Linked DNA regions of Homo sapiens. Changing the gene in region 3 together with the main gene of any one other region gives a genetic interaction. Each region holds a gene or a part of one and is shown on either strand. Other genes may lie near its edges.

Region 1 (7,328 bases), on a different chromosome or scaffold from region 3:
GTCTGGCTCCAAAGCTAGCACTTTGGGCTGTACAGGAGAGACACAGTAGTGACCAAAGGTAGACAGTTTCCCCACATCAGATTCACAGTCCAGAAATTTGAGCGGTTTCAACGAGTAAAAAACCACATGAACAGTAATATTTAAAATTTAAACAAGGCTGGGTGTGGTGGCTCAGTCAAGAGTTTGAGACCATCCTGGCCAAGATGGCGAAACCCTGTCTCTACTAAAAATACAAAAAAATTAGTCAGGTGTGGTGGCCCATGCCTATAATCCCAGGCACTCAGGAGGCTGAGGCAGTAAAATCGCTTGAACCCAGGAGGCGGAGGTTGCAGTGAGCTGAGATGGCACCATTGCACTCCATCCTGGGCGACAGAGTGAGACTCTGTCTCAAAAAAAAAAAGGAACAAAACAGTTGAGGAAACAGAGGCCAAGAGGGGTTACCCATCCAGGAAGGGGTAGTGCCAGGATTCCAACACAAACAACCAAGCCATGGCACTCATGTTGTCTTATCTGTCGATCAGCATTACTGGGCCCTGGTATGAATGGTCACTTTTAGACTAGGTCTTTGCAAGACAGATCAACTCTGTGCTGCCAAACAAAAAAAATAAATAAATATTACCCCAAATACACAGTCATAATATCAGTATTAGCTAACATGAATAGAGTACTTGCCATATGCCAGTGTTGTTCTAAGTGCCTAGGATATGTAACCTCATTGAATCCTCACAAATACCCTATGAGAGATTTCTACATCATTATTCTCATTTTACAGATAAGAAAACTGAGGCACAGATAAGTTCATAACTTGGCGGGGCACAGTAGCTCACGCCTGTAATCCTAGCACTTTGGGAGGCCGAGGCAGGCAGATCGCTTGAGCTCAGTAATTCAAGACCAGCCTGGCCAACACGGCGAGACCCTGTCTCTACCAGAAAACACAAAAAAATTAGTCAGGTATGGTGGCATGCGCCTGCAGTCCCAGCTACTCAGGAGGCTTGAGGCAGGAAGATCACCTGAGCCCAGGGAGGCTGAGACTGCAGTGAGCCGAGATCAACCCAGTGCACTACAGCCTGGATGACAGAGTAAGACCCCATCTCAAAAAAAAAAAAAAAGAAAAGAAAAAGCGAAGTTCATAACCTGCCAGGAAGAACAGGACTAAAGTTTAAGCTCAGGCTGCCTGGGTCCAACCATACCATCAGCAGCAGTCTGTGCTCTTAGCCACTTTGCTATAACGCCTCTCTGAATTTGCTATTGTTATATGTAGTTTAATAGCTCAAAGGGCACTTTCAGGAACATATAAGATAAAGGCTATGAAGTATAGGGTGCTGGGTGACAGATGAAGGTGGCTGTTTGCTTTAGAATGGGGTTCGAGAAGGCCTTTCAAGATAGCGACATTCAGGCTGAGACTTGAAGGATGGGAAGGAGCCAGACAGGCAGATTGCAGCAAAAAGCCCAGGCTGAGGACTCACCAATCACAAAGGCCAGGAGGCAGAAAAGAATATGGAGCCTCAGGAAAACCAAAAGCAGGCCAGTGTGACTGAACCTTGGTGACAGAGAGCACATGGGAGGTACAGCCAGAGCCCTGTAGCCAGGAGTGGGCGGTATAATCACAGTGCAGGAGAAAGTCATGGGGCAGGAACAAGCTCCACCAGCAGCTACCAGGTATCCTCCCTTTATCTGGACTCCGTGCCAAGAAGATCACAATTAAAATTTCATTTCCCTCCAATGCAATAGTATAATTTATTTATTTATTTATTTTGAGACAGAGTCTCACTCTGTCGCCCAGGCTGGAGTGCAGTGGCATGACCTCAGCTCACTGCAACCTCCGCCTCCCAGGTTCAAGCGATTTCTCCCGCCTCAGCCTCCTGAGTAGCTGGGATTACAGGCGCGCGCTAGCATGCCGGGCTAATTTTTCTACTTTTTGTAGAGACGGGTTTCACCATGTTGGCCAGGCTGGTCTTGAACTGATCTCAGGTGAACAGCCCACCTTGGCCTCCCAAAGTGCTGGGATTACAGACGTGAGCTACCGCGCCCTACCAGTAGTATGGTTCTTATCATCTCCATTTTATAAAAACAGATTTTGTGCCTACACAGCTGGAAAACAATTTTTTTAATTGCCGCTGTGCTAATGGAATTCCTTCTACCTACTGTGAAATCATTTCTTTCCATTTTTCTGTCTCAGGATTTAGGGAACTGTTCTGTACGCCCTCCTCCCCAGGCAGCACTGCAGAGATTTTATAAATAACTTCTCACGTCTTTCTCATAGTTTTGAGTGACAATATGGATTAAGAATCCCACCTTGGTGAGGAAAAAGGATAGAGATCGCAGAAGGTGAGAGAAGGCGGGGTAGAAGCGAGGAAGAGTTGGGGCAGGTAACACTCTGGACCGAACCCTCGAAGGGACCTTAATGACTCAGCGGGGGCCAGGGCAGTGAGGCTGCAGTGAGCTATGATCGTGACGTCTAAAGGCGATAGAACGGGGGTTAAAATATAGCAGGACTAGGCTGTGATTTACAGAAGCAAAATGCATTTCCACGGGTGGGAACCAGCGAGGAACCCCCGAATTGCTCCAACGCTGAGGGTGGAGCCGGGAAAGCAGCGAGGAGAAAGTGGGAGGGGCCGTGGCTAAAGGGGCGGGGGTTAGGGGACGAGGCATGGCAGGGAACAACCTGAGGGGACTGGCCGGGGGCTGATGTCGGGGCCACAGTTCTCAGGACGGGACTAGGGGAAACCTAGGAAGCCTGGAACTGGGGTAGACATGGCGAGCAGCTTCTCACCCGGTTCTGCACCGTCTCCTCGGAGGCCGTCGAGAGTCGCGTCCGCCGCCGTAGGCAGATTGGTGGGGCGGGGGGCGGGGAGGACTGGCCCCTCCGCGCCGGAACTCCCGCCATGACAGAGGGCAGCTTCTCCCCTGCATCGTTCCGCGCATAGCCTCCGGACCCTACGGCCGCCATCGTCACGCCGGAGGCGGGCGACCGTTACATCCCCTAACCGCCGCTGCCGCCACCGCCACGACCCACTGGAACAGCGAACAGCCGCGGGAAAGCCGGCGCCACCGCCTATTGGACGCGACGGGCCCGGCCTAGCCAATCGCAGGGATGCCGGGCGGCGCTTAGAACCAATGGGGGCGAAGAGGCGGAGCGAGTGCCTGGCGGGGCGGGGCCACAGCCAGTGTACTGGATGCCTGATTAAGCGTCATGGGGTCTTTCATCCAGACTGCGTTTTCATTATTCGCTGAAACATACAGGTTTTAATTTTTACGAGGCTAAGGCCACGGCCGCCTCACCTCGGTTTTTGCCGCCACCTAGAGGAACTATGTGCGCCCCAACGGTTGCCCGGATGTAGGCGTAGGGTGGAGCCGTAAGAGATTGACTAGCCAGTTGATTTGGTTGGCGCAGGCTCAGAAACGCCGTGACGCCGCCCTTCCCCCCAACACGTGATGAAAGTCGGGGTGACGAAGGGCCGGCTTTGCGCAGGTGCACAGTACTCGCTATGGCCCATTCGTCACGTGACGAGGGCGGGACTGTGGCACTGTGGAGGGGCGCCTAGTAGGCAGGCGCTCTCAGCTCTCTCCCCGGTACGTGACGAGACTCCACGGACGTCACGTGAGGCAGGCGGCGAGCGCGGGTGGGGCGGGGTTAGGCGGCGCTCCGCGAGAACCAAAGTGCAGCCGCTGACCCGGCAAAACTCAGCGGGGGCTGGATAGCCATGCCCAAGTACTGCAGGGCGCCGAACTGCTCCAACACTGCGGGCCGCCTGGGTGCAGACAACCGCCCTGTGAGCTTCTACAAGTGAGCGCAGCGCGGGGCGGGGCTTGAGGGAGGCGGGACCCTGAGAGGGGTGGGGCCCGAGCATTAGTGCTGCTGTGCGGGGCTTCTGGTCTTGCTTGAGGGTGTTAGGAAGTGGGGTTAAACCATGAGGAGATGGCCTTCCTGGCAGTGTCCATTGCACATACAAAGGTGCAGGCGTGGGAAACAGGAGTAGACGATTGACTACAGATAGCGAGCGAAGCGAGCCGAAGAGTGAAAGGGATGTAAGAAGTGAAGTCGGTGCAGGCTGTTAGAGAGCCTGCAGATGCCCACTTGCCCTCCCCACGCATTTGAGCCATCTGAAACTCAGAGCATCCGAAACTGAGCTTGCGATCGTGTCTCCCCAAAACCTTCCAGTCTGTCTTATCTTAGTAGCGTGCTTCATTCTTCTTGTTGCTTAGGTTTAAAAAATGTCATCCTTACCTCTTTCGTCATACTTGGGAAAGTCAGAATTAGCTTCGACTGTAAAAGATCTGTCTCCTTATTTATCTGGCTGACATAAGCCAGTTGGTGGAAGAATTACTAGGAAAAAACATTTCTTTGCTTTTTTTTTTTTTTTTTTTTGAGACAAGATCGCTTTGTCGCCCAGGCTGGAATGCAGTGGAACGATCACAGCTCACTGCAACCTCGACCTCCCGGGCTCAAGTGATCCTCCCACCTCACCCTACCAAGTAGCTGGGACCAGAGGCACGCGCCACCATGCCTGGATAATTTAAATTTTTTTTTTTTTTTTTTTTTTTTTTTTTTTTTGCCAGGCTTGGTGGCTCACGCCTGTAATCCCAGCACTTTGGGAGGCCGAGGCGGGCAGATCACCTGAGGTCAGGAGTTCGAGACCAGCCTGGCCAACATGGTGAAACCCCGTGTCTACTAAAAATACAAAAATTAGATGGGCGTGGTGGCTCATGCGTGTAATTCCAGCTACTCCGTGGGCTGAGGCAGGAGAATCGCATGAATCCAGAAGGCAGAGGTTGCAGTGAGCCAAGATGAGGCCACTGCAATCCAGCGTGGGCAACAAGAGTGAGACTCCGTCTCAAAAAAAAAAATTTTGTTTTTAAAGAGAGAGATGGGATCACCCTATGTTGTCCAGTCTAGTCTCAAACTCCTGGGCACAAGCAGTCCTCCTGCCTCGGCCTCCCAAAGTGCTTGGATTACAGGCGTGAGCCACTGCACCCAGCCAGGAAAAAATATTTCTCTTGGACATACTGCAGATGTAAAGTGGCAGAATTCCCATCCTTTGAGTGTCTACTGCTTTCTTAGTAGGAAACTTTGGTTGTCTAAAGTCAGAGATGATCACAAACTTTGCTGTTTGAAATCACATCAAGTAAGAATGAAACATCTCACTTTTGCTTGGAGGAGCTAAGTCACTTTGACACAGAAAAGCAGTCCCTATTTACAATCCAGGTTTGGAGCTTCAGATAAGGACACAATATTCTACATCTATGTAAACTTTATTGCATCTGAGAAGACAAACCCTGGGCCCACTTCACCATCCGGACCTGATATTGATCCCTTTACACACAGTTCTGATTTGCTTTGAGGCAATCTGAACACTGCTTAGTTTACATTTCACCTAAAAAATAACTCTGTTTGTTGAGACTCCCTCACAAAACAAAGGCCCATAGGGCCTATGGCAGTGGTCCCCAACCCTTATGGCACCAGGGACTGGTTTTGTGGAAGACAGTTTTTCCACGGATGGGATAGGGTTGGGGGAATGGTTTTGGGATGAAACGCTTCAGATCATCAGGCATTAGATTCTCATAAAAAGCGGGCAACTGGCCAGGCACAGTGGCTCATGCCTGTAATCCCAGCACTTTGGGAGGCCAAGGCGGGCAGATCACGAGGTCAGGAGATCGAGACCATCCTGGCCAACATGGCGAAACCTTGTCTCTACTAAAAATACAAAAATTAGCTAGGTGTGGTGGCACATGCCTGTAATCCCAGCTACTTGGGAGGCTGAGGCAGGAGGATCACTTGAACCCAGGAGGCAGAGGTTGCAGTGAGCCGAGATTGCGCCACTGCACTCCAGCCTGGCGACAGAGTGAGACTTCATCTAAAAAAAAAACCAAAAAACCCAAAAAACAAACAAACAAAAAAAAAATGGAGGGCAACCTAGATCTCTCACATGCACAGTTCAGAATAGGATTCACACTCTTGTGAGAATCTAATGCTGCTGCTGCTCTGACAGGAGGCGGAACTCAGGTGGTAATGCGAGCAGTGGGGAGTGGCTGTAAATACAGATGAAGCTTCTCTCACTCGCTCACCTGCCTGCCACTCACCTCCTGCTGTGTGGCCCTATTCCTAACAGGCCATAGACTGGTACCCGTCTGTAGCCTGGGAGTTGGGGACCCCTGGCCTATGGTATCTCTAGTGTGCAGACTCTCCCATTGCCATTGTAAATAAATCTGACAGTGCTGGACTACAGGTTTGTCCCTGGTGGTCTTAGCCTAAGTGGGCTAGGACACATTCCTCATCCAGTCCCTCAGCAAATCCAGTTGGCTCTCCCTTTACAAACTGTCCAGAATTTGATCACTTCTAACCCTCTCCTCTTCCTGCATCCTGCTCCTGGCAATTATCACCTCCAGACTGGACTATTTTAGCAGCCTCTTCATTGGTCTCCCTGCTCCCACCGTCACCCCCAGTCTGTTCCCTGCTTGCAGCCAGAGGGAGCCTGTGAACACCTGAGTCAGATCAGCGCCCTCCTCTGCCCAGATCCCTTCCGTGACTCCCACCTCACTATAAAAAATAAAGTGAGGCTGGAACAGGTAGAAAGCAGGCCTGCAAAGTCCTACAGAGCTGGTTCCCTGATACCAGTGTGACCTCATCTCTTTCCTCCTGCCCTTCACACCAGTGACACTGGCCTACTTCATGTTCCTGTAGTGTGGCAGGCATGTTGCTGCCCTGGGGACTTTGCCTGTGTGATTCCCTCTGATTTCAAAGTTCTTGCCTTTATGACTACCACCCTATGGAAAACTGTAACTGACACCCAAACACACACACGATTCTCTCTGTCTCCTGCTTTATTTTTCTCTTTAACACATCACTGTCTGCATATTGCGTTTTCGATGTATTCATTCATTATCTCCCCCACTAGAATATCAGTTCAATCAAGCCAGAGGTTTTGTCTTTCTTTGTCTTTCTTCTTTCCTCCTGTTTGTGTCTCCAACCTCTAGAATATTGCCTGGCACATAGTAGGTTCTTAGTAAAGATTCGTTGGGTGGATTTGGTGAATGCCTTTCAGATGGGCTCTCCAGGAAAGCCAGCAGTCCATGTGTCACGGATCCTTTGAGGGACCCTGGTGTAGGGCCAAAGGGACTTTAAGCCTGTGTATGACTCTGGCAACATTGATTAATTCAGCAACTTTTTGAGTATTTCTTGGAGAAGCAAGTAAGCCCCTGCTGGACACAAAGAATCCTGACAGATCTTGTTTCTGCCATGACAGAGCTCATGGATAGGTGAGGGATCAAACATTGAGGAACTGAGTACGTGACCTGGGAGTTACCCATGATCCTTCCTTTTCATTCAC
Region 2 (7,026 bases), on a different chromosome or scaffold from region 3:
TATTTGCTGTCTCATTCAATGCTAATAAATACATTAAAAATTATATTAGGCTGCTGGGTGTGGTGGCTCATGCCTGTAATCCCAGCACTTTGGGAGGCAGAGGCAGGTGGATTGCTTGAGGTCAGGAGTTCAAGACCAGCCTGACCAACATGGCGAAACCCCGTCTCTACTAAAAATATAAAAATTAGCTGGGCGTGGTAGTGGGTGCCTGTAATCCCAGCTACTTGGGAGGCTGAGGCAGGAGAATCGCTTGAACCTGGGAAGCGGAGGTTGCAGTGAGCTGAGATTGTGCCACTGCACTCCAGCCTGGGCGACAGAGCAAAACCCTGTCTCAAAAATAAATAAATAAATAATAATATTAGGCCTACCCTAATATAACCTATTGTGAATATTTTCCTTTAAATCATCTTCCAAAATATACATTTTAGTCATAACAAAATATTCCAATGTGATGGATTGTAATCTAACAATTCCCTCATTATTGAAGGGCTACAGCTTTTCTAGTTTTTCACTACTATAAATGCTACTTTTATATATCAAACTTCTATATTTAATAGCCAGTGTTTATTGAGCACTTAATTAAGGCACTTTGATAGCCACTTTATATGAATCCTCCCTTTCAATTTGCATCACTCAGTGAGATGGGAATTATTGTCACCCTCCTTTTCCGGATGAGAAAACTGAAGGTTGAAGAGGCTAAGCAACTTCCTCAAGGCTACACAGCAAATTGGTGGTAAAGCCAGAATGCAAAGCAGGTCTGCATGACCACTGAGTGAAGCTTCTAATCATTCTACCATACTTCATCTTCCATTATTTCTTTATGATGAATTCCTGGAAGCAGAACTCTTAAAAATAACACCCTATTTTTAAAAGTGTGATAAGTGCTGCCATGTTGCCCTTCAGTAAGCTTATAACAATTTGAATAATGCTCATTTTCATACTCTTACTAATACTCGATGCCAGCACTTTAAAAAGTCATTTTCAATTTCCTAAGTTAAAAAATGCTGGCTCATTTCATATATATTTTTAAGCTGATTTAGACTACTGGTATTTTTGTGATTACCTCCTGTAACAGACAAAGCATAGTAGTAAATGTTCTAGGTGGGCCCAATGGCTTATAACAACAGAAAGGGGATTTTGCAAATTTAGGACTCCTCACTGACAACAAGAGCAAGAGATGTTGCAGTGGCAAGTGGTGAATGGAAGAATGGTAAGTCTTCCTCCAAGGGCGGGTCAAGGAAGGATGATGACATCTGAACCCAGGAGTGGACCCTGGCAGCTGAGCTCACCATTAATGAGTTATAACTCACCATTAATGAGTTATCTTTACCACCAGATGGTCTCAAGTAACCAAAAATTTCACTTTGGCCCCTTGTTCCTGATTTTATGGAAATGCCACTTGTAAAGGTCCACATCATGGCAGAAAAATTTCCAAAGATCTCTCAGTCAACCTGGACTCCGCCTTCCTTTTTATCCCCAATCCTCCCCATATCTCTTTCCTCTTCCCACACACTATCAAGTCATGGATCTGAGATGACCACCAAGCACTCCATATCCCTGACAACCCACCAAACAACTTGTAATCATGCCTCCCAACTCAATGTATCTTCCTTCCCCCGGCAGCTATTTCCAACGAGCGCATCCTAGATGAAGAACGATTTTTCTGTGCTCCCATTGTATTCTGATGCTTTGTAATTGTTGGTCTACTTTCTCAACTAGATTTTCAATTTGTTGAGAGCAAACACTTTGTTTTACTGCGTATACAGGACAGTCGGTGGGTATGATAGGGTTTTATACTTTTTCATCAATAAATTGCACGGAGTTGATCAAGCAAACTGGTAGCCAATTTTCTATCTCTGGAGAACAGAGAAAGGAACTAAAATCGAGTGAATCTCTCTCTATTAGATGCCCAGTAATTTACATCCATTAACTCAATTAACTCTCACAATAATCCACTGAGGCAGACAGTAGAGTCCCTATTTTATAAATGAAAACAATAAAACCTTGCTTTCCACATATAGGTAGTGGGGCCAAAATCTGAACCTAGGTTGATGTGATTCTGAGCCTTGGTTCTTTCTATTCCATTAGGCGGCCACCCCTCCTGAAACTCAAAGCCATGTAAACTGAATGGGGAAGGCTTCTCTTCCAGAATTATTGGCTTAAAATCCTCTGGAAGTAAAAAGTCTCCCATTTGCCCTGGCCAGGAAACAAAGAGAGAAATGGGAGCATGGGAAGAGGGATGTAGGAAGAAGAGGGTGGTAAGTTAAAATTACATAACACTTCCCCACTTATCTGAAAGCATCACCTGGGGCACTTCAATCTTCAACTTGACCTCTTTTAACTGTCTCAAGCCTGAGAAGCTTTTTAGATGAGCACCCTAGATTCTTATGGCACTGTGACGCCATCAGAAAAGAAAAAACTGAGACACCGTAGTATATAAGGAGCAAAAGGGACATGTGGCTCTCATTCTGATGAATAATAAGTGGTACAACTGTAGCTAAGTCTAAGCCATTAAAATTCTCTGGAAATCTCCATCTCCTCATTTCTAAACTGAAAGGATTAGGCTGTGAGAGTTTCCAAACTGGCTCTGCATTCAAATAACCCTGAGTCAGTGGAAAATACTGATCTCTAGATCCACCCTCATTCTGCTTTAGTAGGCTTGGAGTGGAACTTAGGAATCCCCAGGTAATTTATAGGCTCAGCCAATTTTAAAAACACCTGGGTGAGATTGTCTATCCCTGCCCTCCTCTCCCCCTTTTCAGAGGACGAGAGTGTGAAAAGACAGCCAGCTGACTTAGTATATTGTCACATAACCAAACACTACCAAGAAATAGCAATTCCAGTTCTATAAGGCTTAATAATCCCTTCCTGTTTCAGGATAAAGTGAGTTATGCTCAATCTTCCTCAGTTGGTTAAACCTGCCTTGCTTTACCAATGCACTAGCCTTAAGACTGCCAAAAACAGCACTAGTGGGGAATGCAAGCTTTTTATTTAATTACAGGGTTCCTCCAGAGGTAGCAGCTGTTGCGATTCTCTCAAGTTGCCAGACCATCAGTTTCTCTACTCCTTCAAAGCTCTTCTGAGAATGAACTACTACCAGAAGATTTTAAGGGCAGACAGGCAGTCTGCCCAGGAGACAGTAATATTCCTACCTTGACATCTAGCTTGGCCAAGTGCTGTAAAACCCAGATGCGATGGGACCAAGCATTATAGTTGCTTGGGTATCTCCCTGCTGCTTCACCACAGACCTCCATCTCTTCTTGTATGAGTCGCTGTGCCCTTTCTGTGGGAATTGTTCCCAAGTTTCCTTTGGTCACAAAGGAAGGCAAGGAGGTTTCCTGAATTAGCTGTTGTAGCACCCATCGCCTGTTAAGGCAGCATGTGGGAAAGAGAACACAGAAAGAACATAAACCAGAGAGAAAAATAACCAGTTTTCATTGTTCCTAATTTAATTTCCATTCAGAGACAATGCAAAATAATACCTGTTTATAAGTCTAGTATTTTGGAGATGGGGAGGGGTTGTTTTGTTGTTTATGATGATACTAATTTAGCAGTATGGATGAAGGGTGGAAAATGGATAAACAGGAAAAAAAAAAAACTTTAAAATCTGTAATACAGAGAATGTCATTACTTCTAAAATGACAATCCCAAAACTCCACTTGGCCAGGAAATGTAAAGGCAATTGGTGTGTGTGTGTGTGGTCGTGGTGAGAGGTCATAAATTAATGGCTGATAAATATTATAAGGAGTCATGATTCACATCTTTAAGTATATATGCATGCCTCACCCTATGTGCATTTGTTTGCAAACAAGAAGCTGCATTCTGATAGCTTTCATTCAGCAAAATTCTGTATTATAGCATAAAATCTGGAAGGTAACAAATATAATTCATTAAACCATTAAGAAGGTGTCAAAATATCCTTATCCACAAATTCTCCCTTTGTCTGTTTAAGATTTGCATTAACATGTATTTACATAAAAAACACTAAATAGTGTTTCGAGCTACTTAATGTGTTTACTTTGTACCAGTAATTTACTTATATAAAAGCATTTTTTAGACTAAAGATTTCAAACCCAAAGGTACAGGAAATTAAGTAAGAAAACTCACTTTGTCATTTTAAAATAATGGAATTTCTTATTTAACAACAAAATATTGCTTGATAAAAAAAATTAGACAAGCCAAACTGATGGATGCATATTTAACAGTTCCTTTCCCCTGCCACCATCCCTTTCCAAACCCCCATACACACAGTCATATACCCTTCTGTGGTATACTATCTCAATTTCTGGTGATGAAGAAAATATAACTGACTATGTGGTTTGGAAGAAGCTGACCTGCAATGTTAACTAAAGGCACGATTACCACTAAGACACCTGGAACGGACATAAGATCCTAAAAATGCCCACGATTTAAGAAAAATTAGAGTGGCTTAATAAACTGAGAATTTCAGAGTGACTTCTTCATTGGTCCTGACTAGCAAGCCCACACCATCCCATTTTGGTCAAATAAGAGTAGTTACACAGGGTCCAAGAGGAAGATGGTTCCAGGTGGCCAGGATTTTGAGAGTCCTAAAGTGCATTCTGGCTATCTGTCCCATGCTTTTAACCTAAAAATGTTCTTTGTATGTATGGATTTTAGCAACTTTAGCTCAGCCTACACAGCATTCGCTTCAGCTGCCCTCAGCTTTCTCTGTAAGTTAATTTTAATAACCACAACCATCACCACCAACATCTTTACCAGGAAAACAACCAAATGCTTTTAAAATCCATATTGCTCATTACAGTTGAGTATCTATAAATGCAATGCCCACAACTGCTTCAAAGAGTTAATAATAGCTAACATTTATTGAGTATTTAATATGTGCCAGGCACTGTGGGAGTGTTACATGCATTAACTCACGTAAACTTGACTGTTAACTATATGAGACAGGTGTAATTATTATTCTCATTTTACAAATGAGAAAACTGAGGCTTGGTGAGTTAAGTAATTTCCCATGAACACTTAGGTAGCAAGTTATATAGCTCCTAGATTTAAATGTAGGTAACCTGACTTCAGAATTCATGCTCTGGAACCAATAAGTAACCTTGCCTCTCACATGTCATGTTTCTTTCTCCAGCCAGTCTGAATCCTAAGTAAGAGTACTATGTTGTAAATTAACCACACCTGTGAATCCATGTTTCTGGACTCTTTGGAAACTTGGTTAAGGCGAGTTTTCCCAGATGTAAATCCTTAATTGGATTTAAAGTGCCAGAGAGGATCAGCTCTTTCCTGTAAAAAAAAAAAAAAAAAAAAAAAAAAATTAAACATTACTTTATCCTTATATCCAAAGGTTCTACATGGCTTTTAATATAATCTCATTGTGAAGCGAATGTCTAAGAATTTTAAAACAAAAAAAGAAAGAAAAAAAGCCCAAGCCACTCTGGGATATAAAACACTCATAAATGTGACATGCAGTAATCAAGAATGTATTCTCATAATCCCAATATAACAAACTAATAAGCAGAAAGAGAAGCTCTTAAATCAACAGATTTTAACGATTTTTAAATCTTAACTATTTGCGTGAGGGTAAATGGGGTTTTCTGGCCTATCTCATTTCCAAAAGTTGTGAGACCTGATATCGTACCTATAGGGCCAATCCAATACCAGCCAAAATTGGTCTAGTTTCCTAAATAGGACTTGACATGGTCTATTTCATTACAAAACCACACATACAACAAACACAATATGGTTGAGATGTAAGGGAAAAAAAAATCATTCATGGAATCACTATTCTAACCAAATTACTATTTTTTATTTTTGAATTTTCCCTTCTACTTTTCCCTATCACACATACATTTTAACATATAATTTTACATCCTGCTCTCATTATATCTTAAGAATTTCCCCATGATTCTATATAATCTTTGTAATGAACATTTTAAATGATCAAATTAGTTTTCATTTAGAAGCTATGCTTTTCCCTTCTTGTTAGACATTTAGGTTGCGTCAAACTTTTTGTTATTTTAAAACAAATCTGGGCAGGGGAAGCTTTGTGCTTATAACTTCTTTCTTTTGTATTCTTACTTTGGATAAGTTTCCAAAAGAGCTATTAACAAGGTAAAATACTTACATGACCCTTGATATACGAGGCCATTCCTTTTTAAAATATTAATATAAGCAGCAGAAGTAATAGCAATGTAATGTTTTGGTTGTTTTTAAAACTGTTCAAGCCCAACCAAAGCTTCAATGCAATCAGTTGTCCCTTGGTATCTTGTGGGGGCTTGGTTCAGGACCTCCCAAGGATACCAAAATCTGCGAATGCTCAAGTCCTTGATATAAAATGTGTTGCCATATAACCTACACACATCCTCCCATATACTTCATATCATCTCTAGATTACTTATAATACCTAATACAATGTAAATGCTATATAAATAGTTGTTACATTATTCAGGGACTAATGATAGGAAAACAAAGTCTGAACATGTTCGCTACAGAAAGCAATTTTTTCCCCAAATATTTTCTATCTGCGGTTGGTTGAATCCATGGATGCAGAACCTACAGATACAGAGGGCCAACTATATAAAGAATGTCATGCAAGAGCTTTCTATACCTGTTTCTCAGGTAAATACAATTTACATTTAATTTCTCAGGTAAGTTTTTGATAAGTGCTGATATTACACTCTCACTGAATTCTCAATGTATCTATAATTTTATAATAAAATCAGATCATTTGTTATTATTTATCTTAAAATGTCCTTCCTGTGTAGGGCTGATTATTCATTTATTTTAGAGAAGTTTAAGCCAGAGAAAACCAGAATCCAGCTCTTATACCATATCTACTTAGACGGACTTAATTCCTAAATACCACAATACATTTTCTTTCCAACAGTGACATACTATTTATAAAGTTTTATTTGATAAAGAAAACAACTATTTTCCTTTCAATGTTCAGGAAACCAATTTGTCATTATATATATATAATATATATATAAAATATATATTTTTTTCTTGCAACAGCCAATTGCTTTTGCAGTCTTGGATTAT
Region 3 (6,828 bases):
TCTCTTAATTCCATCTGGTGGATCCCTTGCAACTTAAAAAAAAAAGGTTGGATAGACACTATTAAAAATCGGGTTGTTGTTTTTTTTTTTTTTTCCTGGTTGAGTTTATTTTACAGCCAGTTTTTCCAGAAAGGTATTTAACAGCTGATATAAACTTGACATGCAACTACTTCAACCCAGTCTTAGAAAATTAGTTAATAAATGCCAAGAACAGACAAGGTCTTCTGGAATAGACAGATGAGTAAGCCAGAGTCATGCTCTCAAGACACCTAAAAGCTAGTAGGGGCAGATAAAACACGCACACAACTTGCAAGAACCCAAGGCAGCAAGATGTGTGTGTAAACATGCCACAACATACACAATAAAGTTCCCAAAAAAGGAGAAAGAGAAAGCTAGGCTCAAGATCAAAGAACTGCACCAGCATACAATCCAATAAACCATTAAAATCCATTAGTGAATTAAATAAGTCAAAAGAGTAAGACACAATGAATGCTAATAAAACTTAGTAAGGCACAGAAGTCCAGATTCTAATTCTGGTTCTGCTGAAACTAGCTTCTAGCTCTGTGATATTAAACCACTATTCCTTACAAACCTCCTCTACCTGTTTAACGTGCTGTTGTGAGGATTAAATCGGCTCCCAGAATCTTCACTTCCCAGTAACTTTATCTCCCAGATTCCCTCCCATATCAGAATCTCCTCATAGGCAGTTAGTTATTCAACTTCTTCCTGAGTACTTCCAGTAAGGGGAACTTCATTATTTCTCAATAGCGATTACTACATCTGGGACAGCACTGATTCTTACAAATGTTCTTGCTTAGTGAAACCAAGATCAGTCTCTCAGAAAGTTCTATCCTACGGTCTTACACAGAAAAACAACAGAAAATTGGAAAAGCCTAAGAAAGTAACATGTAACGAAAACATGAAACACGAAAACAATGCACCGGTGTGAGAGCTCACCAGCACTTGGGAGGCCAAGGCCGGAGAAGCGCTTGAGCCCAGGAGTTTGAGACTAGACTCGGCAACATAGTGAGACCTCCTCTCTCAAAAAAAAAAAAAATAAACAAAAATTAGCCGGGCGTGTCAGCACACGCATGCAGTCCCAGCCACTCAGGAGGCTGAGGTGGGAGGATCAATTAGAGGTTGCAGTGAGCCAAGACGGGGCCACTGCACTCCAGCCTGGGCGACAGAGCGAGACCCTGTCTCAACAAAGAAAAAGGAAAAAGGAAAGGAAGGGAGAAAGGAAAGGAAAAAGGAAAGGAAAGGAGAAATGAAAGGAATGGAAAGGAAAAAGGAGAAAGGAGAGGAAAGGAAAAAGGAGAAAGGAGAGGAAAGGAAAGGAAAGGAAAGGGTCAGATAAATCACCCTTAACCAAGAAATTTTAGGGAAGTCTTCACAGAGAGTAGGTATCTGCTGGTTCTCCAAGGTGGGAAGAGTTGATCCGTGGCTTCAAACTCCAGGTCTTTTTTTTTTTTTCTTTGAAAAGGTCTTGTGTTAGGGAGGAACTGGCAAGAGAGCACAAAGCCTGTCCCAAAGGGCTCTTGAAGCACATTCTTTTTTGCAGATGAGCATATCCCTTTAGCATATGAGCAAGAAAGCGGTGGCTAAAAAGCCTGGAGGTGAGCTGGAGCCAGATCAGAAGAAACCTGAACATCACTCTCCTAAAAAGGCTGGACTGAAATTAGTGGAGGCAACTCACCGACGACTTCTGACAAGATGGCAGAATTCAATGTTCGGGAAGATTAGTTACGTGGAGATGGGCTGGATGTGGCCTGGGTGGGAGTGGGGGTTTGAGTGCCACACTGGCCGGGATTCAGGGAGCAGATACTGGAAATGACGACAAAGCCCACGACTGGGAGAAGGGAGAAATGTTAAAACGCTGCCAAGTGACTAAGGACTAATTCTATTAACAGATTAAAAAGTTGATTTCTAGTATCTATTCAGGGAAGGACAAAATACAGGATTCTGTTTTACTTATAAATGTAGTTTTGGCATCCCACATCGCTGCAGCACGCTGTACTGCCGGAGACTAATTCCTCTGCGTTCCTAAAGGCTACTTCCTGCTAGCCAAAGCACATTTTTAAAAAGTGAGAGTCATGGTTCATAATCCATATTTGGCAAAAAGCACAGGCAGTGCCAAGTTGAATTTGGGTAAGCAGTTTGGCATAAGCTATTTCAACAATGAAATGGCCGATGTGATGATCCTCAGGGAATACAAAAAGCCTCCTAGCAGCCTTCTGTTAAAAACTTTTTGGTAGGGATGAGTCTTTCTAGCTACTCTAAGACACATCTGATCAATAAAACGCCCATCCCGGAGCAGCATCTTGGCCCTCCGGAGATCAACGTTTATAGCGGGCTCCTCTTGGACTCTCCCTCTCCCTTTCCCTAAAGGAGCGGGCAAGACCAGGCCTCACCGGAAAACAGCGCAGCCGACCGCCCTCCACCCCGGGAGCAGGGGCCGGGCTCCCCTCCCCCAGCCGAGGCCGGCGGAGTGCGGCGCTTTCAAAGGCCTGGAGCCTGGTACTCGGCGCAGCCGGCCCTGCAGCCTCGCTCGCCCCATCCCGGCCCGCTCACCTCGACCCGGGCCGGCTCGGGGCCCTGCACAGCCACAGGCTGCGGCTGCAGCTGCTGGGCCGGCGCCGGCGGTTCTTTGTTCCGGTGGCTAAGGTCTTCATCTGGGCCGGCCCGGACCGCAGCCGGGGCCCACAGCAGCGGAACCAGAAAGAGCAGAAGCAGCCGGGGCGCCGATGCGCGGCCGTTCCCTGGAGCCGCGGCCGCCATCCCGCCTGCCGGGCCGGCCGCGCACGGGCGCCGCAAGAGGAAGTGCCGGCGACGGGAAGCCTCGACCCCGAACAGCCTCCGCGGCGCGTCCTCACGACTCGCCGCCGCCGCCGCTTAGGGAGCAGTCAGCACCATCCGGGAGGTGCAAGCAGCGGGAGTGAGGTGAGGGGCAGGCCGAAGTCCGCAGCCCCGGCTCGGCGCCCGTCCTCTCCGGCGGCGGCTAAACTGGAGTCAGCCAGCTGCCTCGGCGCGGCCCAGCCCCGACTCCTCCCGGCCCCGTCCCTGCCCGCGACGGCCTCCCATTGGCCCGGCGACCGCCTTGGCGTCGTGACGTCCTCTGCCAGGTTGAGGTGCGGCGCGGGCCCTCCTCCCATTGGATCCGGCGCTCCCGGCAGGTACCCGGCGCCGCGTGTCCTTCCTCTGCTCGCATCCTCACCGCGCCGCGCCCGGGGCTCCCTTTCTCTCTCTGTGCCCCACCGTCCCAGGACTGCGAGGTCCTTCACTTCTGCTTCCTCCAGAGCCTTCCGCCGTAATGTCCGCACCCGCTGTTCCCTGCGCTTAGTCTCTCTTAGAGGTCAAATTAGTGCGAGCGCCTCTGGTTACGTGGCGCTGACTCGCAGGCACTGCCACGCCCAGCTCTGTTCCGCTCTCCCCCGCCGAGCCTCTGTGCCACCCTCCATGTGGCCACCTACCGCCAAAAACGTTCTTAGGAGCTCAAAATGCTATTTTTTTTTTAAAGTTCTGAAATGGGATTTGGAAATAACATGACATTTTTCAAGCCTTGTTTTAAGATACTGCCTATAATTACCCCAGACCAAAAATGGCTAACGTTGCCCTTGTCCAGTATGGCCTTGACGTTTTGGGTGCATCTTGTTTTGTGCTATTCCTTAGACCCTTTAAAAATGCTGGGCTTTTGAAATGGACTGTTTAAGACTTTTGCAGGATGGAGCTTTGAGTGGGCAAGACTAGAAGACAGGAAAGGATGGTCTTGAGTTAGGCTTGAGAATATTTTTACGTCTTCCCAAAAGAAAAAGTGAGCTACTTAATTACCATAAGTTTGAGACCTAGTCCCTAATAAAAATCGATAGTGCTAACCATGTGCCAGGCACTAATCTAATATTATACATATTTACATACAGTAAACCTGTACTCAGTAAAGAGCTAAGGAAGTTTATCACTAACTGAAACAAAAAATTAATCCACCAAAACAATCTGTGGGAAAGTGGGCAAACCTACTTTGAGTTCACCAAAGATACAGTGTTTGTCACAGGATAATAAAATTTCCGTCTGTTTTTTTGTTTTGTTGTTTTCTTTGTTTTTGTTTTTGAGACGGAGTTTCGCGCTTGTTGCTCAGGATGGAGTGCAATGGTGAGATCTCGGCCCACTGCAACCTCCTCCTCCCGGGTACAAGAGATTCTCCTGCCTCAGCTTCCCGAGTAGCTGGGATTACAGGCATGCTCCACCATACGCGGCTAACTTTGTAATTTTAGTAGAGATGGGGTTTCTCCATGTTGGTCAGGCTGGTCTCGAACTCCAGACCTCAGGTGATCTGCCGGCCTCGTCCTCTCAAAGTGCTGGGATTACAGGTGTGAGCCACCGCGGCCGGCCTCCGTCCATGTTATTCTGTCCGTAATTCCCCTTCTTCCATTCTCTCCTTGTAAACTCCTACTCATACTTCCAAAACCTATTCAAGCTTCCACTCTCAGAACTTTTCCCCAACACATGGCGTTACAGAATTTGTCACTTGTTCCTTCATGTTATTGCTTTATGCATTCTTCTATTACTGTGTAAGTAGGATGCCTCCACTTACAGTTTGGGGTGTGTTAAAAGAAAAACCTTAGACAAATTAAACTTAACAGCGTTTAATCAAGCAAAGAACCCAAAGAATGATCTGCAAATCAAAAAGACCCCAAATCAAAGTAAGTTCAGAGAGGCTCCAGTCTTGCCGAGTGGTCGGAAAAAATAAAGTGACTTACAGAAAACATAATTGAGGGACAGAAACAGCTGGATTGGTTGTAGCTCAGGTTTGCCCTATTTGAACACGGTTTGAACAGTTGGCCACTTGTGATTGGCCAGAACTCTGTGATTGGTACAAGAATAGGTTACAGTCTGTTTACATACCCAATTAGGCTACAGTTCACCATGTATGGGGAAACCTTTAGGCCTAACTTAAAATATGTAAGGAGGCAGCTTTACACTAAATTTAACAGATGCAACTATCATCCCTGGAGTGCAAATGTTTGAGCTTTCAGAAGCCAGTAATAACATAAAACCCAGAAGCCCAAACTTCAACTACCTCCCCTTAATGCATACAGGATTTGCTGTGCTTAAAAGGGGCCTGAAAGGGAGGCTTGAGGTCCCAAGGGAGGGACCTGAAAGGAGCAGCTTAGGCTGAAGACAGAGCCAGAAGGGTGAATGTAGCAAAACTGGCTGTGTGTCCCTCATTGCTGAAAGCTGCTTTGTTTATTTTCTAGGATGGGCTGCCCACACTCCAGGGCTTTCTCACAGGAAGGACTCCTGGCCAAATTCAGTCATCTCAACATATGAGGCAGTGAGGACTTCTGGGCTACAGCTGCAGGATGCTGAAGCACCAGCTGCTGAGCATGCAGTGGTTCAGGGGCAAGGCAGCAAAGCTATTTGGCAGAAGATGTAACATAAATGGAGATAGAGCATTGGCGAACTGGCACAGTGGTGTCAGCAAAGCATCAGAATCTGGGCCAGAGTGAGACCTTTCTAGCCTGCCCCAGTGTCACCCTGATCCAAGGGCCTTCAGGTGCTGCCAGGCTAGGCTCTAGGTGTCTGATTCTCATGGGATCTGGTATTTCTGTTTCCACACACATCTACCTCCTGGGATCCGTGCTCAGGCGTGCTAAATCGAGGCTGGCTCCAGTTTTCACCACCTTGAGGGTTTAGAGCCATCATCCTTCTAGTCCTCATTGGTGACTAACTCCCTTAAAAAAAGCAATTAAAAAACTATAGGAGCTTTCCTGATACCTTTCTTGAAGGACAACTGAAGCTACTTATTTAACCCCCTACCCAATAAGGATGTGGGTGGCGCAACAATTCCAAGATGATATATTTTTTAATCATAGCCTACACCGATATAGTCTTACTAAAATGTAACCACTGTCAGGCATCCTATGGAAAGAAACCCTACTACATGTGCATTACATTGTATTTTATTTAATTAATTTATTTATTTATTTTTGAGGTGGAGTCTCGCTCTGTTGCCCAGGCTGGAATGCAGTGGCAAGATCTCGGCTCACTGCAGCCTCCGCCTCCCGGGTTCAAGCAATTCTCCTGCCTCAGCCTCCTGAGTAGCTGGGATTACAGGCATGTGCTACACGCCCCACTAATTTTTTGTATTTTTAGTAGAGACGGGTTTACCATGTTAGCCAGGATGGTCTTGATCTCCTGACCTCGTGATCCGTCCGCCTTGGCCTCCCAAAAGTGCTGGGATTATAGGCATGAGCCACTGTGCCTGACCTATATTTTATTTTTTATTTATTTATGTAGAGATGGAGTCTCGCTCTGTCACCCAGGCTGGAGTGCAGTGGTGCGATCTCAGCTCACTGCAACCTCTACCTCCCAGGTTCAAGCGATTCTCCTGCCGCAGCCTCCAAAGTAGCTGGGACTATAGGCGCCCGCCACCATGCCTGGCTAATTTTTGTATTTTTAGTAGAGACAGGGTTTCACCATGTTAGCAAGGCAGGTCTCGAACTCCTGACCTCAAGTAATCCATCCACCTCGGCCTCCCAAAGTGCTGGGATTGCAGGTGTGAGCCACTGAGCCGGGCCTGCACTGTATTTTAATGTCTTTTATTCCAACACCCTTACTAAGCCTTAAGCTTCTAGATGGTAAGGTTATGCCTTTTATCTTTATATTTCTAGCACCTAGTAGATTATATAAGAAGGTAATGGGAATAGTTATCATTAAAGTAGTAGTAAAACTTTATTGAATGCTATTCTGATCCAGTCAGAGCACTAAGTGTGTTACATGAATTATTTCTATCCTCCTTTTTGCAAATGAGAAATCTGAGACTTAGGTCAA
Region 4 (7,026 bases), on a different chromosome or scaffold from region 3:
CAGCCAACTGCTTCTAAAATTTCATCTAGCAATATCTTAACCATAGAGAGCCAAAAAATAATAATCTAGAAAAGAGAATTCCACTTCCAATGACTAAATCCACCTCCCCAAATATGATATATGCCATACCCTGTATGACACTGATTAACACTGTCAACAAACATTCCCTTCTCCTACGTAGTTCACAGTTATTTTACTACCAGTAAGATGTGCAAAGAGAACCACACTGACCTAGACAAAGAGCTGGCACCAAAGGAAGCCACGCTGCAGAACATGGGGCTTGTTCCTGGATTGGAGCCAGTGTTTAGCAAGAGATTTCTGTCTGGTGACCGTGCTGCTGCAGCAATTGGCTGTGATGTGGCTGTCAGACTGGCAAATGGGTTTTCATCTCTGGTCTGAGTGGACATCATTAGCACTTCCATTAAAATCTGGCCAATCAAGTCCTTAAAATCGGAGAATACTGTTGGAAAGGCAGAACAAAGAACAGGTTACACACAGTTCGAACACAGGTTACACAGCCCTTGAATAAGCCAGCTGACCCCAAATGGTTCGATGCAGTATCCTGGATTAGATTCTGGAATGGTAAAAGGATATTAGTGGAAAACCTAAATAAAGCCTTGTGTTTAGTTAGTAGTAATTTCTTAGTTTTGACAAATGTACCATGGTTATATAAGATATTAACGTCAGGGGAAACTGGGTAAAGTATATATAGGAACTCCCTGCACTAACTGAAACTATTCCAAAATTAAAAGTTTATTAAAAAGAAAGTTGGGGTACAGTCATTGAGAGTTACCGCTGATGTATATTAATTGTAAAAAGAAGCTACTCCCAACTATAGAGGTTACTTTATTATACTACAAATGCAACTGGGTTAATATTTCTTAGTCTAGATATGTTTTATAGATAGTAATAAAACTATTAAGTCCAAGGTTCAAAAGATTTTATGAAGGGTCCAACATCTAGTCACCATGTGGCTTTCAGGAGCAAATGCTACATTCTAGCTTCCTTCTTATTCTTTGCAGCTCCCAGTTGATTTACTGTTGGTCTTTAGATACATTTTAAATACCACTAAACAAAAGTTTTAACTCATGGAAATTTTATCTGATTTGGTTATTTAAAATTGCCACTTACATGTGTAAGACAGAGTTGCCACTTAACATGTGTAAGACACTTGTTTTAACAAAAGTTTTAACTCATGGAAATTTTATCTGATTTGGTTATTTAAAATTGCCACTTACATGTGTAAGACAGATTTGCCACTTACATGTGTAAGACAGAGAATCTTAAGATTTATAATAAGAATAACAAGTAGCAGAGTTTCAAATACATGGTCTGCTCCATTAGCAGAGTTAATAAGTAAAATCAGAAATAGTCTTATCTATCCTCCAGAAATACAAAGGACTTTTTTTTTCCCTCCTCAGAAGATAGGCAGCATAGAAAAGAGAAAGGTGATCTCCTTGATATTCACGCATCCATTTAAAATCTATCTATTGAGGGACTATTTTGTGCAAGATATCCTTCTAGGGATACATCAATGAGTAAAACAGACAAAAATCCCTACCATGAGGGAAGTTACATTCCAGTGATAGGCCAAAAAAACCACTCCAGCACACCTCCCATACCTCTTCTGCGTTCCAAATGACTACTGTAAAGAAAAAGGATAGTGCCCTATGATGCTGATATCTTGCTAAGAGTTTTATTATTTTGTTACAAGCTTGGCCTCTTAAAGTGGAATATCAGAAACACAGCAAAATGTCATTATGTTCTATCTTGCTAAGCAATTTAACCAAATAGACCAATTCCACCGTCTATACATGGCTTCATAGGCACTTAAAGCAGGTATAGCTCATACAGAACACTTCTCTCAGGATCCCTGGAGACCACCCACTATATCTATACTTCATAAGAGGAGGTAAGGCCAGGCTCGGTGGCTCAAGCCTGTAATCCCAGCACTTTGGGAGGCCGAGGCAGGCAGATCACGAGGTCAAGAGATCGAGACCATCCTGGCCAACATGGTGAAATCCTGTCTCTACTAAAACTACAAAAATGAGGCCAGGCACGGTGGCTCATGCCTGTAATCCCAGCACTTTGGGAGGCCAAGGCGGGCGGATCACGAGATCAGGAGATCGAGACCGTCCTGGCCAACATGGTGAAACCCTGTCTCTACTAAAAATACAAGAATTAGCTGGGTGTGGTGGCGCATGCCTGTAATCCCAACTCGGGAGGCTGAGGCTGGAGAATTGCTTGAACCCAGGAGGTGGGAGTTGCAGTGAGCCAAGACTGCGCCACTGCACTCCAGCCTGGTGCCAGAGCAAGACTCTGTCTCAAAAAAAAAAAAAAAAACAAAAACAAAACAAACAAAAAAAACTACAAAAATTAGCTGGGCGTGGTGGTGCACGCCTGTAGTCCCAGCTACTCCAGTGGCCGAGGCAGAAGAATCACTTGAACTCGGGAGGCAGAAGTTGCAGTCAGCTGAGATCATGCCACTGCACTCCAGCCTGGTGATAGGGTGAGATTCCATCTCAAAATAAATAAATAAATAAATAAATAAATAAATAAATAAATAAATAAATAAAGAGGAGGTAATGCTCTAAGCACCTTCTTACTACAAAGAGAAAAACTTCAACCCTGAGAAAATGGAGACCATTAACCTATTTACATAGTATTATAGAAATCATGGAAATGAAAAATAAGTTATCGATAAGATCAGTGGAAAGGGAAGAAAGTGGCTAAACAATTGTGTCCTCATCAAGAAGTATCCCTGTCATCAAAAATACAACCCAAGAGCAAGATGGAGTGAATGTGGATAACAGAGGGCAAAGATCTCACATCTTATTTTCTTGTCGAGTACTCTGCAGTAAGACTGCTGAGCTAGATTCCTACCTTCTTTTGGGTTCTGCTTAAACTGTGCAGAAAGAGAAGAAAGAAAGATGACATCTCTGTCCCGGTCCTTCCAAGAGACACGGAAGATCTTACAGACCAGCTGTAAGGCCTGCTCTTCAGACACTTCAGGGCCCGAGGAAGGCTCCTGGTGAAGAAGAAGATTTGCAGGTTAATTTCAAATAAGAGGTATGAGTTAGGTGTTTCAATAGGAATACGTTATTCTGATTTAATTCATTATTAGTGATGATATTTTAAAAATGCATGAAACCATTCACCCACTGATTAGGGGAAAAGTAAGCCTATTCCTATAACATCAAAGTTACAACATCTAAGTCTCATGAGCTTACAATACAATCTATGGGGAGCATAAAAGAGCAAAGATGGCCGGGCGTGGTGGCTCACACCTGTAATCCCAGCATTCTGGAAGGCCGAGGCCAGTGGATCACCTGAGGTCAGGAGCTCAAGACCAGCCTGGCCAACATGGTGAAACCCTGTCTCTACTAAAAATACAAAAATTAGCCAGGCGCGGTTGCGGGCCTGGCTACTCGGAGCTACTTGGGAGGCTGAGGCAGGAGAATCGCTTGAACCCAGGAGGCGGAGGTTGTGGTGAACCAAGATCACGCCATTGCACTCCAGCCTGGGCAACAGAGTGAGGCCCTGTCTCAAAAAAAAAAAAAAAAAAAAAAAAAAAAAAAAAAAAAGAGCAAAGTCATTATCAAAAGTCACCAAGGAAAAATATGTGACAGAGGATGTACATATCCTATCTATTTACTTTTCTGAATTCCATAGGACCAGGTTAACACTCCAGGTGCATGACCAATTTTCCTCCAGGAATTTTTCAAAATTGTAACATTTCTCATTACATACCACCACAGATAAAACAGCATATAAAAAAGAATTTTGTAAACATTAAAGAACTATACAAAATAAAGCACTGCACCACTAGGAGGCTACAGTGCAACTTCTTATTTTTTCCTTTGTTTGTCTTTATTTTTGTTTACAGTGCAACTTCCAATAATCATTAACATGTGTTGCTAAAGGATTCCTAATAATTTACTAAACAGAAAGTGATGTAATTATCTATATTAATACACACACACACACACACACACACACCCTAAATGCAGAGCACTAAGCTCAGGTGATATTCAAATATAAAGGCTTCATGTTTTCCAAAACCTTCTACTTGCGACTAGATTCTACATATTCTTGCTTCAATTCCCAGTCATTTTCCTCAGAATACTGCTAAAGATGTGATGATCTACTTGCTTAAAAGCAAAAGACCAGGCCAGGCGCAGTGGCTCACGCCTGTAATCCCACACTTTGGGAAGCCAAGGCAGGTGGATCATAAGGTCAATAGATCAAGACCATCCTGGCTAACACGGTGAAAACCCATCTCTACTAAAAATACAAAAAATTAGCTGGGCGTGGTGGCGGGCGCCTGTAGTCCCAGCTACTTGGGAAGCTGAGGCAGGAGAATGGTGTGAACCTGGGAGGCGGAGCTTGCAGTGAGCCGAGATCGCACCACTGCACTCCAGCCTGGGCGACAGAGCGAGACTCTGTCTCAAAAAAAAAAAAAAAAAAAAAAAAAAAAGCAAAAGACCAACAGAAAGAATTCTAATTTGCTCTAAATTAGTTCCTATTACAACCTAAATTTACTGATAAAATCATGGCCCTGAACCAAAAACAGATGGATATTATCAGATCAAAGGACTGAGTTACACTTTCATGAATAAGGGTAATCTAGGTTATTCATTTTTCCTCAAAAGAATAAAAATAATCACCTGCCTAGGACTTCCTGATTTCGGGTGGCCCCAATCTAACAGACTCTACAGATACAAGACATGAAATGTGTTTATTTCTATTACCTGTACCAAGGGCTTCATCGCTTACCAACCTTATCACTGAGGCTCCGCTTTTCTCTTCGATCATTTTCATCAACCTCCATGTTTTCAATTCCTGAATCCACATCCACCTGGGACATGCTTAAAGTACAAAAGACAAACAAGCCTTTTACCTTTTATAAATCCGCACAATGTCACTGTAGCTGCTGGGTGAGAAAATGTTTTAAAATATCAGTTAATCAGGAAAGGAAAATGATAATGGTCCATCTTTTTTCTTATTAATTTTTAAGAGTTCTTCATAAATTAGGATCTAAACAATTTGTCTCTTATACATGTTGGAAATATTTTTCCTAAGTTGTCATTTTCTTGGGCTTACTTTTTAAAAGTATATCATTGGCCGAGTGCAGTGGCTCACGCCTGTAATCCCAGCACTTTGGGAGGCCAAGGCAGGTGGATCACCTGAGGTCAGGAGTTCGAGATCAGCCTGACCAACATGGAGAAACCCCATCTCTACTAAAAATATAAAATTAGTCAGGCGTGGTGGCACATGCCTGTAATCCCAGCTACTCGGCAGGCTGATGCAGCAGAATCACTTGAACTCAGGACACAGAGGTTGCGGTAAGCCGAGATCGCACCATTGCACTCCAGCCTGGGCAACAAGAGCGAAACTCCGTCTCAAATAAATAAATAAATAAAAGTATATCATTAAAGTAGGTTACCTATATATAGTATTTTAAAATGACATAAAATTCAACCAGGCCAGGTATATTGGCATGCGCCTATGGTCCGAGCTACCTAGGAGGCTGAAGCTGGAGGATCACTTTAGCCCAGAAGTTTGAGGCTGTATGCACTATTACTGTGCCTGTGAATAACCACTGTATCCCAGCCTGGGCAGCATAGCAAGACTCTGGCTCTAAAAAAAATTAAATAAACATTTTTAAAAATTTAATTGAGAAAATAGGCCAGGCACGATGGCTCACACCTGTAATCCCAGCACTTTGGGAGGCCGAGGTGGGCGGATCACAAGGTCAGGAAATCGAGACCATCCTGGCTAACATGGTGAAACCCGTCTCTACTAAAAAATACAAAAAATTAGCCGGGCATGGTGGTGGGCACCTGTAGGCCCAGCTACTCAGGAGGCCGAGGCGGGAGAATGGCCTGAACCCGGGAGGCAGAGCTCGCAGTGAGCCAAGACTGCGCCACTGCACTCCAGCCTGGGCGACAGAGCGAGACTCCATCTCAAAAAAATAAAAAATAAAAATAAAAAATTTAATTAAGAAAATAAAAAACTCAACTGAAGTCTTATTATAAAAACTGGTTAAGTACATATCATTTATCCCCGATTGAACAATTGCCCTAGCACCATTTACTGGAAAGATCATCCTTTTTACATTAATATGAAAGCTCCTATGTCACGTGTCCAATTTTCATTAACGAGTGGGTCTATTTCTGGAGACTCATTACTGTTCTGTTAGACAATTTGTCTGTCCCTGGCCAATACCACTTTGTCTTAATTACTAAAACTTCACAAATCTTGATATCTGCTAGGTCAATGTCTCCACTTTATTCTTCTCCTTTAAGAGGTTTTGCTATCCTTGGCTCTTTCCTCTTCTACACATACTTAGGAATCAGCCTGAGGAATTCCTTAAAAACCCTCCCGGGATTTTGACCAAAATTTTTTTCACTCTTAGAGATCAACTTGGGGAGAAGTAATATATTACTGAGTTTTCATTACTCTCCAAGTATTAAGATCTTCTTTAAGGTCTATCAATAAGCTTTAGTAATTTTCTCTATAAAAATTTTATACTTCTTTTGCTAAATTTATTCCTAGGTACCATATGTTAATACTTTTTAATGAAATTGTGAATGGCACCTTTTTAAAAATTACGTTTTCTAACTTTTTGTTGCTGGCAGACAGGAATGCAACTGATTTTAAATATACACTTCTTATAAGCAACTTATTTATTTATACATAGAAAGTTTACATGTAAATAATTTTTTCTTTTTTAGACAGAGTCTTGCTCTGTCACCCAGGCTGTAGTGCAGTGGTGCAATCTTGGCTCACTGCAACCCCTGCCTCCCAGGTTCAAGCAATTCTCCTGCCTCAGCCTCCCAAATAACTGGGATTACAGGCACGCACCACCATGCCCGGCTAATTTTTTTTGTATTTTTAGTGGAAACAGGGTTTTACCATGTTGGCTAGGCTTGTCTCGAACTCCTGACCTCAAGTGATCTGTCTGCTTCGGCCTCCCAAAAGTGCTGGGATTACAGGTGTGAGCCACTGTGCCCAGCCAACATG

The links.
Region 1: changes in TMEM165 (region 3) and WDR62 are lethal when combined (synthetic lethality), as found in Homo sapiens cells (one study listed by BioGRID).
Region 2: changes in TMEM165 (region 3) and PTAR1 are lethal when combined (synthetic lethality), as found in Homo sapiens cells (one study listed by BioGRID).
Region 4: changes in TMEM165 (region 3) and UBE4B are lethal when combined (synthetic lethality), as found in Homo sapiens cells (one study listed by BioGRID).

The regions. Positions count from the first base shown.
Region 1 is NC_000019.10:36,050,594-36,057,921, reverse strand, and holds the start of WDR62 (WD repeat-containing protein 62), read right to left. Parts: upstream 3,026-7,328; 5' UTR 2,951-3,025; coding exon 2,774-2,950; intron 1-2,773. Other genes in the region: THAP8 (THAP domain-containing protein 8), read left to right, coding at 3,705-3,787. UniProt on the Homo sapiens protein: Required for cerebral cortical development. Plays a role in neuronal proliferation and migration.
Region 2 is NC_000009.12:69,728,987-69,736,012, forward strand, and holds part of PTAR1 (protein prenyltransferase alpha subunit repeat-containing protein 1), read right to left. Parts: intron 5,269-7,026; coding exon 5,164-5,268; intron 3,367-5,163; coding exon 3,153-3,366; intron 1-3,152.
Region 3 is NC_000004.12:55,392,140-55,398,967, reverse strand, and holds the start of TMEM165 (putative divalent cation/proton antiporter TMEM165 precursor), read right to left. Parts: upstream 3,012-6,828; 5' UTR 2,779-3,011; coding exon 2,572-2,778; intron 1,850-2,571; exon of another isoform or gene 1,697-1,849; intron 1-1,696. UniProt on the Homo sapiens protein: Putative divalent cation:proton antiporter that exchanges calcium or manganese ions for protons across the Golgi membrane.
Region 4 is NC_000001.11:10,098,950-10,105,975, reverse strand, and holds part of UBE4B (ubiquitin conjugation factor E4 B), read right to left. Parts: intron 4,869-7,026; coding exon 4,781-4,868; exon of another isoform or gene 4,770-4,780; coding exon of another isoform or gene 4,752-4,769; intron 3,029-4,751; coding exon 2,884-3,028; intron 461-2,883; coding exon 232-460; intron 1-231. UniProt on the Homo sapiens protein: Ubiquitin-protein ligase that probably functions as an E3 ligase in conjunction with specific E1 and E2 ligases. May also function as an E4 ligase mediating the assembly of polyubiquitin chains on substrates ubiquitinated by another E3 ubiquitin ligase.